3 linked regions of the Homo sapiens genome follow. The protein of the gene in region 3 interacts with the protein of the main gene of each other region in a pairwise test. Each region holds a gene or a part of one and is shown on either strand. Other genes may lie near its edges. The genes, in order: ABHD16A, CSGALNACT2 and TMEM143.

Region 1 (3,585 bases), on a different chromosome or scaffold from region 3:
CTAACAGAGCCGTCCAAAAGGCAAAGTATGGCTCTGAGAAGACATGAGTCCTTGGCACCTGGCCCTCCGTCCCTGGCAGGGCCTGTGTTTGTTGAACTGCAAAAAGGCTGTGAGGACAGAGACTTGATGACATGGCAAGGTGGGTGTGCAGGGTTTGCTGCATAAGACGTGGGGAGCAGGCCCTTCCTCACTCTTCACCAAGATAACAAGAGGTGAGCAATGAAAATTGGGGGTACTGCTAGTAACACCATGCAGGTTGAACCTGGAAACCAGCAGAAGCACTGGGTAGGTGAAATCGGATCCTAGAAAGCTCATGAGCCGTAAGCAGGAGGGGGCAACCATGGGCTCCTGGGGTGGTTGTATGCAGGAAGAACTGAAGAAGGAGGCGGGAGGGGCCAGGGAGGCTGCACAGTTGTGATAACAGTAGGCACATCAGGGACCGGGGAGGTTTGGGGACCTGCTGCCTGAGGAAAGCTCAGGTTAGGGGCTGAAGGCCTAGGGGGACACAGAGATGGGAAGGGTTAGATTAGCTAGATTGTCTAGAGTTAGGGTTTCCCAAAGCCCAGCTCTTTGGGGCCTCTGCTCTCCCCACTACCTGCCCCTGGCTCCCTGGACACTTGAGAAGTTATACAATTAGCCTGATAGTAGAAAAAATACCTTTTTATTAATTATTAGGAATAATCCATTCATGTAATGCAGGATGTATGTTGGAGAAGGTTAAGTACAGCCACATGAATGAGGGGAAACGTGCAAGAGGAACAGTGGTGAGAAGGGGGATGGTCCCCCACTTTCCACAAACTATAAACAGCAACATGAACACAGAGAATCACAAATAAGAGGGTCTTTCCTCATGTCTCCTCTCACCCCATTCTTCCATAATGAGTCCCAGTTGGTCCCTAGAGGTGCCAGGGCATCTGGAAGTTCTGGGCTGGGAGTGGGGTGCAGTGAGTGGCCTCAAAGTTGTGCAGATGCTTCCGAGCCTGAGGAAAGGAGGTGGGACAGGTGGGGTACAGAGCACTGTTGGGAGGGGCAGCCACTGGACTCCCTCCCCACCCTCCACTTCCGCATCCACCACCCACTCTACAAAAGCTGCCACTTCCAATGCTTATAGGGTATCCCCAGTCCCCCTATGTGAGCCCTGGCCATTCAAGAACCCTTCCCACTTCCCACTCCTTAGCTCACCAGAAACAAAGCCAGCTGCCGCCGTCCATCTGCACTCATGTCCTCCCCTGCAGAGAGGAGGCGCTCAAAATAGGCCACACATCTGGGTATTCATCCCCTTCCTAGGCCCTTCCCACCCTCTCTCCTGCCCCAGGAGCTCCTTACCCACGCTCCAGGGGAAGTCGGGCCCGTGTTCTGCCTGGTAGGAGCGGAGGACAGACAGACACCAGTCCTCTTCCACCTCCCATCGGCTATAAATTGAGGCTGGTCAGGGAGAGAGATGACAGCCAGTCAGCAACCTGACCTTGCTGGGCCCCCGCCCCAAGCCTCACTGGATCCCTTCTCACCTTCCTCCAGCTGTGAGGAGGCCTCCAACCACTGCCTCACCACTCGAAGACCCTCCTCTGCCATCACCCGGGGATACCTACGGAGGAAGTGCCAGGACAGGTCAGGGCTGATTTTTTTTCATTCACCATCCCTGAACCTTCCTCCCTCCTTCCCTGTGCTGGTATCAGTATCTGTGTGTGTACACTGCCCCCAGCGCGCACACACCCTGGCTCTCACCGATGCTGCAGGAGCTTCAGCAGGAGGTCATTGCCTCGGTTGGACATGATGTCCTCAGGAACCCTGGGGGTGAGAAGAATGTACCCTGGAGGGGCTGGAGGTTAGGAGGAAGGGTCTAGATACCCAGGTTTCTGGTGGGCAGAGGTAGAAGGGACAAGTTCCTGGCCATCTCTGGGGTTCCTGAGGGCCGAGATTCCCACGCACTCACGTGGTGGTGATGATCTCATCCTTGGTTCTCCGGATCAGCAGTACAGGACCCTGGTATCTTCAGAGAACAGAGCAGTGGGAAGGGAGAGCTCAGAGGGAGACGGGTGACAACTGGCCCACCCCTATCCCTGCACTGGTAGCATTCTTACCCTCCCCTTGCTATAGCACAGCCCTTGACCTAGCCCTTCACTCAGGGGTGAGAGGGGATTATTTAAGGGGCATGGTTCAGTCTGGCCCTGCTGGGAGACCCCTGCCGTGCCAGGCCTTAACCCTTTGGTTGCCAGATCCTGAGGTGGTCCAGAGTCCCAGGGGACCTGGGAGGGGTTAGGCCAGTTGAGGTGGTGGCAGGGTCACTCAGGATGTGAGCCAGTGGCCTTTTACCAACTTGCACTTTAGTACTAGTTTCAGGGTTTGAGCGCCCAGCAGAGCTGTATGGGGGGCAGGTGTTCAATGCCGGACGCTGGCCGGCCCTCACCTGCACAGCTGCTCCGCGTTGTTTAGATTGAGATGCTGCCTCACGGTCCTGGTCACCAGGCCCCCTAGAGTGGGATAAAGGTGAAGGGATGGCAGAGACAAAGCCCTTGCCCAACATAAAGGTCCTCACTATTCACGGAGAAAGAAAACTGAGGCCCCCAGACAAAGGAGTCCTCCTGCTTCCAACAATGGGGCGACTTACTCCCCACCCAAGAAAAGGGAGCCATCTCAGAACAGTTCCCAGTTCCAGCCCACCCCTTCCCAGGAAGGGCAGGCCTGGGAGCTGCACTCACTCCAGCTGTCTGGCATGACCTTCAAGGCCAAGGGCACCAGGTCATCAAAGGAGGCATCCAGGATCATGGCACTAACATCTGGGTAGGACATGGCTGCCCACGTGGCTGGTACCAGGGCAGGGAAGAAGAGTAAGAACTGAGAAAGGCTCCTTTCTCCCCACCACCCATGCTCTCATCCCACTGACCCTATAGGCCAACCCCATTCCCCCTATGTTATCCCTTGTTTTTTTCTTAACCTACTTCACTTGGTTAGGGAACTATCTGGAGAGGATGGGGATAGAACACTGGAGATAGTGCACTGAAGATAATGGGCAGGAAACATTCACTTTCCCTGATCTCCCCACCCAGGACCTGGGTCTGCTTTTCCTTTTAATGACTGGGCACAAGAGGGGAAGGAAAGGTGAAGTGTATGCAAATAGGATAGCTTCTTCCAGGCCCACTCAGAGATTCTACTTCCTCTCTCTTCTTCCTTGAGCCTCCACCCCACCCCATTTCCCCACCTCTCCCGGGTGGGGCTGGGTGGTCATGAATGTGTCTACAGTGGGGGATGGGAGGGAGGCTGGTACCAGTGAAGCCGCCGATGGACCAGGCGTAGATGATGATGTCCTGGGGCTGGAAGCCTAGGCGGTGGATGGCAAACTGGACCACCACATCCATGGCATTAGCCTCATTCTGCGGGAATGGCACCCCCTGCAGGAGAAAGGGCAAAGTCAGGAGTGTGTCAGCACCAAAGGCCAGCTCACCTGTCCCTCCCAACGTGGACCCCTCCTGCAGCCACCTATGACAGGCAGAGAAGGTGTAGAAGGAAGGGATGGTAGGAGAGGTTGTTCTCTCCAGAAGACGGATGTGTACAATGAGATCTACCTCCTCCTCTCCTGCTAGCCCC
Region 2 (3,650 bases), on a different chromosome or scaffold from region 3:
TTTGTACAATTTATGCAGAACTTCAGGTAACTGTCAGGGCTTAATGATTAAGCTACATTCTCCTAAAAAAAATCACGTTTTACTCAGATTTCCTTAATTTATCTTCACCGATTATAATTACTTAGAATAATTTTACAGGCTTTAGGGGAACTTTATTTTTTTATATTCTCTCTTTTTTTAAAGCATGTGTAGTATATTGTGTTATAGACAATTTGAACTATGAAATAAATTAAGAGTGACACCTATTAGAAACTAAATTTGATGGCCTTGATAATTGTTTTGAATTCATTTTAAGACAAGTTGAATTTTTAAAAAATCAACTTTACTAAGGAATAATTTACATGCAGTAAAATCCACATATTTTAAGGATATAGGTATCATGACTCTTTTTTTATTTTTATTTTTTTTTTTGAGACAGGGTCTCACTCTATCACCCAGGCTAGAATGCAGTGGAGTGAGCACAGTTCACTGCAGCCTCAACCTCCTGGGCTCAAGTGATCCTCCTGCCTCAACCTCCCAAGTAGCTGGGACCACAGGTGCATGCCATCTTTTTTATTCTTTGTAGAGAGAAGGTCTTGCCATGTTGTCCAGGCTGGAATTTAATGTCTTTTGACAAACGTATACACTCACGAACCACCACCCCAATTAAGATACAGAATACTTGTGTCTCACAAGAAAATCCCCTTGAGAATGATTTGAGTTTTTTAATTGAAATACATTTAGACATACAAACATTAAACTAAAAATTGGAGAAAGTTATTTCAGCTTGCAAAGCAGAGAATTTGTAAAGTTTTTTTATGTTATCAAATTTGTATATTTTAAAATGCTGAAGTGTTAAATAATTATCTACACATTATGAAAACTATTTGTGGAAAATGCTTTTTGATTTAACAGTTTCCATGTTTCTAATACTTTAATATTTTTAATGTTTTAGATACTTTGATATACTGGTTTAATGCTTTGTGATCCTAGTCTTTATTCTCATATTGAAATTGTTGGATTTAAAAGGTTAATTAAAACTGGTCTGCAGCTGAATGTCTGGCAGTCATACTTCCAAGTGAGATTTACTGTTCCAAATAGCTCACTTGAGATCCGATTTCCTAAAGCATTTTTTTATTGCCTTTCTTGGAATTACTTTCAAAGGCCACATTATTATTTACAGTAAGTAATCTCAGTCATGGCAAATATTTATTCCTTAATGATAGTTACAATTTTTGGAATTAGCCAGTCTGAAGACAAAATAACTCTTAATCCAAAAGGTCAGTATTTATTTATGTGGTTCTGAACCAGTTGAGTTTATTTCCTTGAATAGCTTGTGATTTGCTTCTGAAAGCAATCCAAAAGCAAAAGTTCAAAAAATGTTTTGAAATAATGGCAGCAATGTCAGACTGCTTCCATGGCCCTCCAAGGGGTGCACTCATTCAGGCATAGACCTTGTGCCTTCCATAATTCATCAGTATTGCCACATTTATGTTTACTACTGTGTCAGTAATGCCTCATTTTCTTGTTAAAGCTTCATGTGGTTGCTTTCTTAATGAATAGTGCCTCATGTTTTCTTGAATAAACTTTTATTTTTCACTTCTGTTAGGGATGTTTGTATTCATCAAGACAAGAAGATTCATCTCACAGTGGTGTATTTTGGTAAAGAAGGACTGTCTAAAGTCAAGTCTATCCTAGAATCTGTCACCAGGTTGGTGAACCACATCTGCAGTGAAGGCCTTGATATATAACATTGCTAAAAGAGAATTTCAGATATGTAATGAGTTAATAATTTTTAGTAACTATTATTTAAAAATTGGCTGAGCATGTGGGCGGTGGTGGTGATGATAAGTTCCTCATTTCACATGCAACCCTACATGACTCAACTTCCCTTCACTGCTTAGCAAGCAGCCTGGCATGATGCTTTCTCTGTGGCCCACTCACCTTCTGTGTATTTGCTGCTGCTTTCCTTTTTTTAAAATCTAATTCCTTCACTTTGACATAATCATCTTCTGAATTTGTCTCTTTTTTGTCACCTTTCTTTCCTTCCATTTCCTCAGGCTCCTTCTTCTCCCCCTGCTAACAATGTTGAGGTCTCCCATATCCTTAAGAAACTCCCACTCAACTCTGAAGTGCCCAGCCACTACTGTTATGTTTCTGTCCTTTCACAGCTCAACATCACGAGACAGTAGTTCATAGCTAAGCAAGTCATATAGTACCTGGCACATAGTAGATGCTCAGAGGTTTGAATGGATGAATTAGTAATCCCTTAGTACTTAATTATTAATTCTTTAGCCTCTCAGCCTTTTTCTTTCTAAATCATGGGCCCAAAGATAACGACTTAACTGCCAAATTCTTTTCTGTTATTCTTTTTCATTGCTTTTTTACCTTTGACAACCTAACCAGTATTTCTGTCTTAAAATGTTCTTCTTGTGTTTGTAAAATGTAACTATTTTGTAAATGTAAGTATGATGTAATGTAAACTATTAGGTTGATTATCATCTCTAACCACACCAGCTCTATATCCTTTACTTGCTTCTTTACCTTTCTGCCAGTTGTGGCCATTTGCCAAGAGCCCAGATTTGATCAGCCATTCTTCTCAAATCATTCAACTCACATTCATTGAGTCCTGCCTACTGTGTTCCAGGTACACTGCTTGGGAGTTTGACTGGGGTAGTTGGAAGAAGAGTGGGCGTAGATGAGTGAATCTGAGTCCCTGACCTGCAGGGATTCTCAGAGCCTTGATGTATATAGACACAATTCACTGTCTTCCCCTTCCCTACACCAGCTCCTCCTCCTGATGGCCCTCTTTCAGTTCAGAGTAAAACCATTTTCACCATCTGGGCATGACTTCTGAGAGCCACAGTCTTTTACTTATTCTTTGCCTCCAGTTACCTCTAATTAGTTAGTTCCTACTTAATTCACAGGACCTCTTCTCTATCTCTTCCTTGCTACTGCCACCACCCTAACCCTGGTTCCCCCTCCCTCCATTTCTTCCCTTCCTGTCCCTCCTTAGTGTTTTTAGATCACCTACTAAGTGCCACAAGCTCACACTGGTAATACTGAAGTATTGTCAAGACACTTCTGTGGCAAATGGTGTAAACCTACCTTGAGCTTGCTTGAGGAAAATAGGAGCAGTATTGAAGAATCTCGGATACCTCCCAGAAATAAAGGGATTGTTACAACCAAATTTGGGGAAGAAAATCAAAACAACTCTTGTTTCTCAGGGATTGGAACCAGAGACTTGAATACCATCAAAATTCTCGTCTCCTTGTCTGTTTTTCTCTGCATGTTGACTTCATTCTCCTGTTGCAGATTGGCTTCTTCCACATGGTGAGGGATATGACTGTTGGCGGCTCTGGGCTCACATCTTCTCAGCTTTGCCATCAGAGAGGAAAGAGCTTTCTCCCAGCTCCAGTTGAGAAAATCCCAGGGAAGGACATTTTGCCCACTCTTGAGCCAATCACTATGGCCAGGTTGGGTGGGGGTATTGGGACTGGCCCAGCTTAAGCCTGGTCTCCACCCCTAGGAAATTACTGTGGTTGGGGTGGGCAGAGAGTGAGGGGTATTCTGTGATCAGTGCCTCCACTTGATGCTGAGTATGTGGGGTGGCAATGGGCAGTTTTCCCCCAACAGAGGAGAGATTTATATTCCTTAAGACGGGGAGAAGA
Region 3 (3,650 bases):
AAGATGGAGACAGGGGTTGGAGTGACTCATCTACAAGCCAAGGAGCACCAAGGGTTGCTGGCAGCTACAGGAAGCCAGGAGAGACACCATAGATGCTTCCCTCTCAGGGCCTCCACAAGGAAACATCTTTTAATACATTTCACTTCTTTTTTTTTTGAGACATAGTCTCACTCTGTTGCCCAGACTGGAGTGCAGTGGTGCGATCTTGGCTCACTGCAGCCTCCGCCTCCCGGGTTCAAGTAATTATCCTGCCTCAGCCTCCGGAGTAGCTGGGATCACAGGCATGTGCCACCACACCCAGCTAATTTTTGTATTTTTAGTAGAGTCGGGGTTTCACCATGTTGGCCAGATTGGTCTCGAAATCCTGACCTCATGTGATCCACCTGCCTCGGCCTCCCAAAGTGCTGGGATTATAGGCGTGAGCCACCGCGCCCAGACTTTTTCTTTTTTTTTTTTTTTTTTGAGACATAGTCTTGCTCTGTCACCCAGGCTGGAGTGCAGTGGTGCGATCTCAGCTCACTGCAGCCTCCGCCTCCTGGGTGCAAGTGATTCTCCTACCTCAGCCTCCCGAGTAGCTGGGACTATAGGCACCCGCCACCACACCCAGCTAATTTTTGTATTTTCAGTAAAGATGGGGTTTCACCATGTTGGCCAAGCTGGTCTCGAACTCCTGACCTTAAGTGATCCGCCCACCTCGGCCTCTCAAAGTGCTGGAATAACAAGCGTGAGTCACTGTGCCCGGCCAAATTTCACTTCTGTACCTTGTTGCTGGTCTCTTCCTCAGTAGAACAGAGCCTGTGAGGTACATCTCTCATGCTGTCCACTGTCTCCCAGAGCCTCAAGCCATTCCAGAGACACAGTAGGTGCTCAATAAATATTTACTGAGCGAACTCAATGAATGAATGAATCAGCGAAAAAAGATCAGAGAGAGGTCACCCGCCAAGGTCACCCGCACCACTAGTGAACAACCAAGCTATTGTTTGAACCGAGGCTATGCTGCTTCTTTCCCTGCCCAGGCCACATCTTCAAAGGACTTAAGTCATCAGCAAATGGTCACCCAGCGGGCCTCACCCGCCTCTGCCACTTCTACCCTGCCCCTGCCTCTGTTTAAAATCTCCTGCCTGGGAGATATATGCTTATTCACTTATGTTCTTTCTACATTTCTATATATTTATACATTTCTATAATAAAATAGGCTTTTTTTAACTTTTTTTTTTTAAGAATCTTGCTCTGTCACCCAGGCTGGAGTGCAGTGGCGTGATCTTGGCTCACTGCAACCTCCACCTCCCGGGTTCAAGTGATTCTCATGGTTCAAGTGATTCTCATGCCTCAGCTTCCTGAGTAGCTGGGACTACGGGCACCCCCCACCACAACCGACTGATATTTATATATTTAGTACAGACAGTTTCACCGTTTGCCAGACTGGTCTCGAACTCCTGGGCTCAAGTGATCCGCCTACCTCGGCCTCCCAAAGTGCTCAGATCACAGACAAGACATACCAAGCCCAGCCTTAACTTTTAAAAAAATAGAAAAAGAAAAAAACAACCGTGGCTCCAGAGGCCATAGGTGCCCTGTGGAAGAGCTTGGAGGCAGGCAGACGGGGGCTTGATCTCGACTCCACCAATTATGAACTGTGTGATCCTGGGCACAACCCGGGCCCTCTGAGACATTCAGTTTCTCCATGTATGAATGGGCTGATGGCGGCTGTCTCTCCGCACTGCAGGAAGGAGTCAATAAGCCAGACACAGCAAGCGCTCAGCAACAAGGGGCTGTGATGGCCACTGTTGCTGGGGTTGTTATTATTCAAAGCAAAGTGCGGAGCTGCAGAAGGCAGTGGTGGGATGTGGCGAGGGGTGAATGCAGCAGGCCTGGGTTGTCCAAACCCCGCACATTCCAAAGAAAGGACCGGCCCTGGACCAGCTTCTGGGAGGGAACCTCTAAGCCCTTGGAATGTCCTGACTGATAAGAGTGTCTTGGTTTACCTGGGGCCTGGGGCCACACTGGATGCTGTGTGTTAATGTTGTCATCTATGGTCAGGGCCTGGAGCCACTGAGCATCAGTTTGACCTCGGAGGGGCTGGAGTCTCAGGTCAGCCACCATGCATATGTGACTGACCCCCAGTAAAAACCCTGGCCACCCAGGCTTACAGGAGCATCCCTGGTTGGCAGTACTGCTTGCGTGTTGTCACACATCTTGCTGGGAGAATTAAGTGCCGTCCATGACTCCACCGGGAGAGGACAGCTGGACGCTCACGCCTGGTCTGTCTTGGATTCTGCCCCATGTGCCTTTTTCCTTTTTTTTTCTTTTTTTTTTTTGGGATGGAGTCTCACTCTGCTGCCCAGGCTGGAGTGCAGTGGCACAATCTCAGCTCACTGCAACCTCCGCCTCCTGGGTTCAAGTGATTCTCCTTCCTCAGCCTCCTGAGTAGCTGGGATTACAGCTACTGGGATTACAGCGCCACTATGCCCAGCTAATTTTTGTACTTTTAGTAGAGACAGGGTTTCACCATGTTGGCCGGGATGGTCTCGATCTCCTGACCTCGTGATCTGCCAGCCTTGGCCTCCCAAAGTGCTGGGATTACAGGCGTGAGTCACCACGCCCGGCCCTCCTTTTTTTTTTTTTTTTTGAGACAGAATTTTGCTCTGTCACCCAGGCTGGATAGTGCAGTGGCAAAATCTCAGCTCACTGCAACCTCCGCCTCCTGGGTTCAAGCGATCTCCTGCCTCAGCCTCCCAAGTAGCTGGGATTATAGACATGCGCTACCAGGCCCAGGTAATTTTTTTTTTTTTTTTTTGAGATGGAGTTTCACTCTTATTGCCCAGGCTGCAGTGCAATGGTGCGATCTTGGCTCACTGCAACCTCCTCCTCCCAGGTTCAAGCAATTCTCCTGCCTCAGCCTCCCGAGTAGCTGGGATTACAGGCATGCACCATCACACCCAGCTAATTTTGTATTTTTAGTAGAGACGGGGTTTCTCCATGTTGAGGCTGGTCTCGAACTCCTGACCTCAGGTGATCCGCCCGCCTCGGCCTCCCAAAGTGCTGGGATTACAGGCGTGAGCCACAGCACCTGGCCTTTTTTTTTTTTTTTTTTTTTTTTTTTTTGAGATGGAGTCTCACTCTGTCACCCAGGCTGGAGTGCAGTGGCGCGATCTCGGTTCACTGCAAGCTCCGCCACCTGGGTTCAAGCGATTCTCCTGCCTCAGCCTCCTGAGTAGCTGGGATGACAGGCACATGCCACCACACCTGGCTAATTTTTGTATTTTTAGTAGAGACGGGGATTCATCATGTTGGTCAGGCTGGTAATTTCTGTATTTGCAGTAGAGACAGGGTTTCGTCATGCTGGCAAGGCTGGTCTCGAACTCCTGACTTCAGCTGATCCACCTGCTTTGGCCACCCAAAGTGCTAGGATTACAGGCGTGAGTCACCGCGCCCGGCAGTACTACCATCTATTAATAGATCCTCCCACAGCAGTTTCTCAGCCCAGACCTCTCCCTTCACCTCCAGATCCACATATTCAAGTCTATCTTTCTTTTTTTTTTTTTTTTTTTTTCTGAGACGGAGTCTCACTCTATCGCCCAGCTGGAGTGCGGTGGCGCAATCTTGGCTCACTGCAAGCTCCGCCTCCCGGGTTCACGTCATTCTCCTGCCTC

What was found.
Region 1: the proteins of TMEM143 (region 3) and ABHD16A interact in binary tests that used the Homo sapiens proteins (3 or more experiments, as listed by UniProt).
Region 2: the proteins of TMEM143 (region 3) and CSGALNACT2 interact in binary tests that used the Homo sapiens proteins (3 or more experiments, as listed by UniProt).

The regions. Positions count from the first base shown.
Region 1 is NC_000006.12:31,686,316-31,689,900, forward strand, and holds the end of ABHD16A (phosphatidylserine lipase ABHD16A), read right to left. Parts: exon of another isoform or gene 3,390-3,585; coding exon 3,266-3,389; intron 2,805-3,265; coding exon 2,700-2,804; intron 2,472-2,699; coding exon 2,408-2,471; intron 1,991-2,407; coding exon 1,934-1,990; intron 1,789-1,933; coding exon 1,726-1,788; intron 1,586-1,725; coding exon 1,509-1,585; intron 1,426-1,508; coding exon 1,327-1,425; intron 1,230-1,326; coding exon 1,183-1,229; intron 981-1,182; coding exon 897-980; 3' UTR 640-896; downstream 1-639. UniProt on the Homo sapiens protein: Phosphatidylserine (PS) lipase that mediates the hydrolysis of phosphatidylserine to generate lysophosphatidylserine (LPS). LPS constitutes a class of signaling lipids that regulates immunological and neurological processes.
Region 2 is NC_000010.11:43,158,906-43,162,555, forward strand, and holds part of CSGALNACT2 (chondroitin sulfate N-acetylgalactosaminyltransferase 2), read left to right. Parts: coding exon 1-26; intron 27-418; coding exon of another isoform or gene 419-443; exon of another isoform or gene 444-459; intron 460-1,588; coding exon 1,589-1,690; intron 1,691-3,294; exon of another isoform or gene 3,295-3,455; intron 3,456-3,650. UniProt on the Homo sapiens protein: Transfers 1,4-N-acetylgalactosamine (GalNAc) from UDP-GalNAc to the non-reducing end of glucuronic acid (GlcUA). Required for addition of the first GalNAc to the core tetrasaccharide linker and for elongation of chondroitin chains.
Region 3 is NC_000019.10:48,353,821-48,357,470, forward strand, and holds part of TMEM143 (transmembrane protein 143), read right to left. Parts: intron 1-3,650.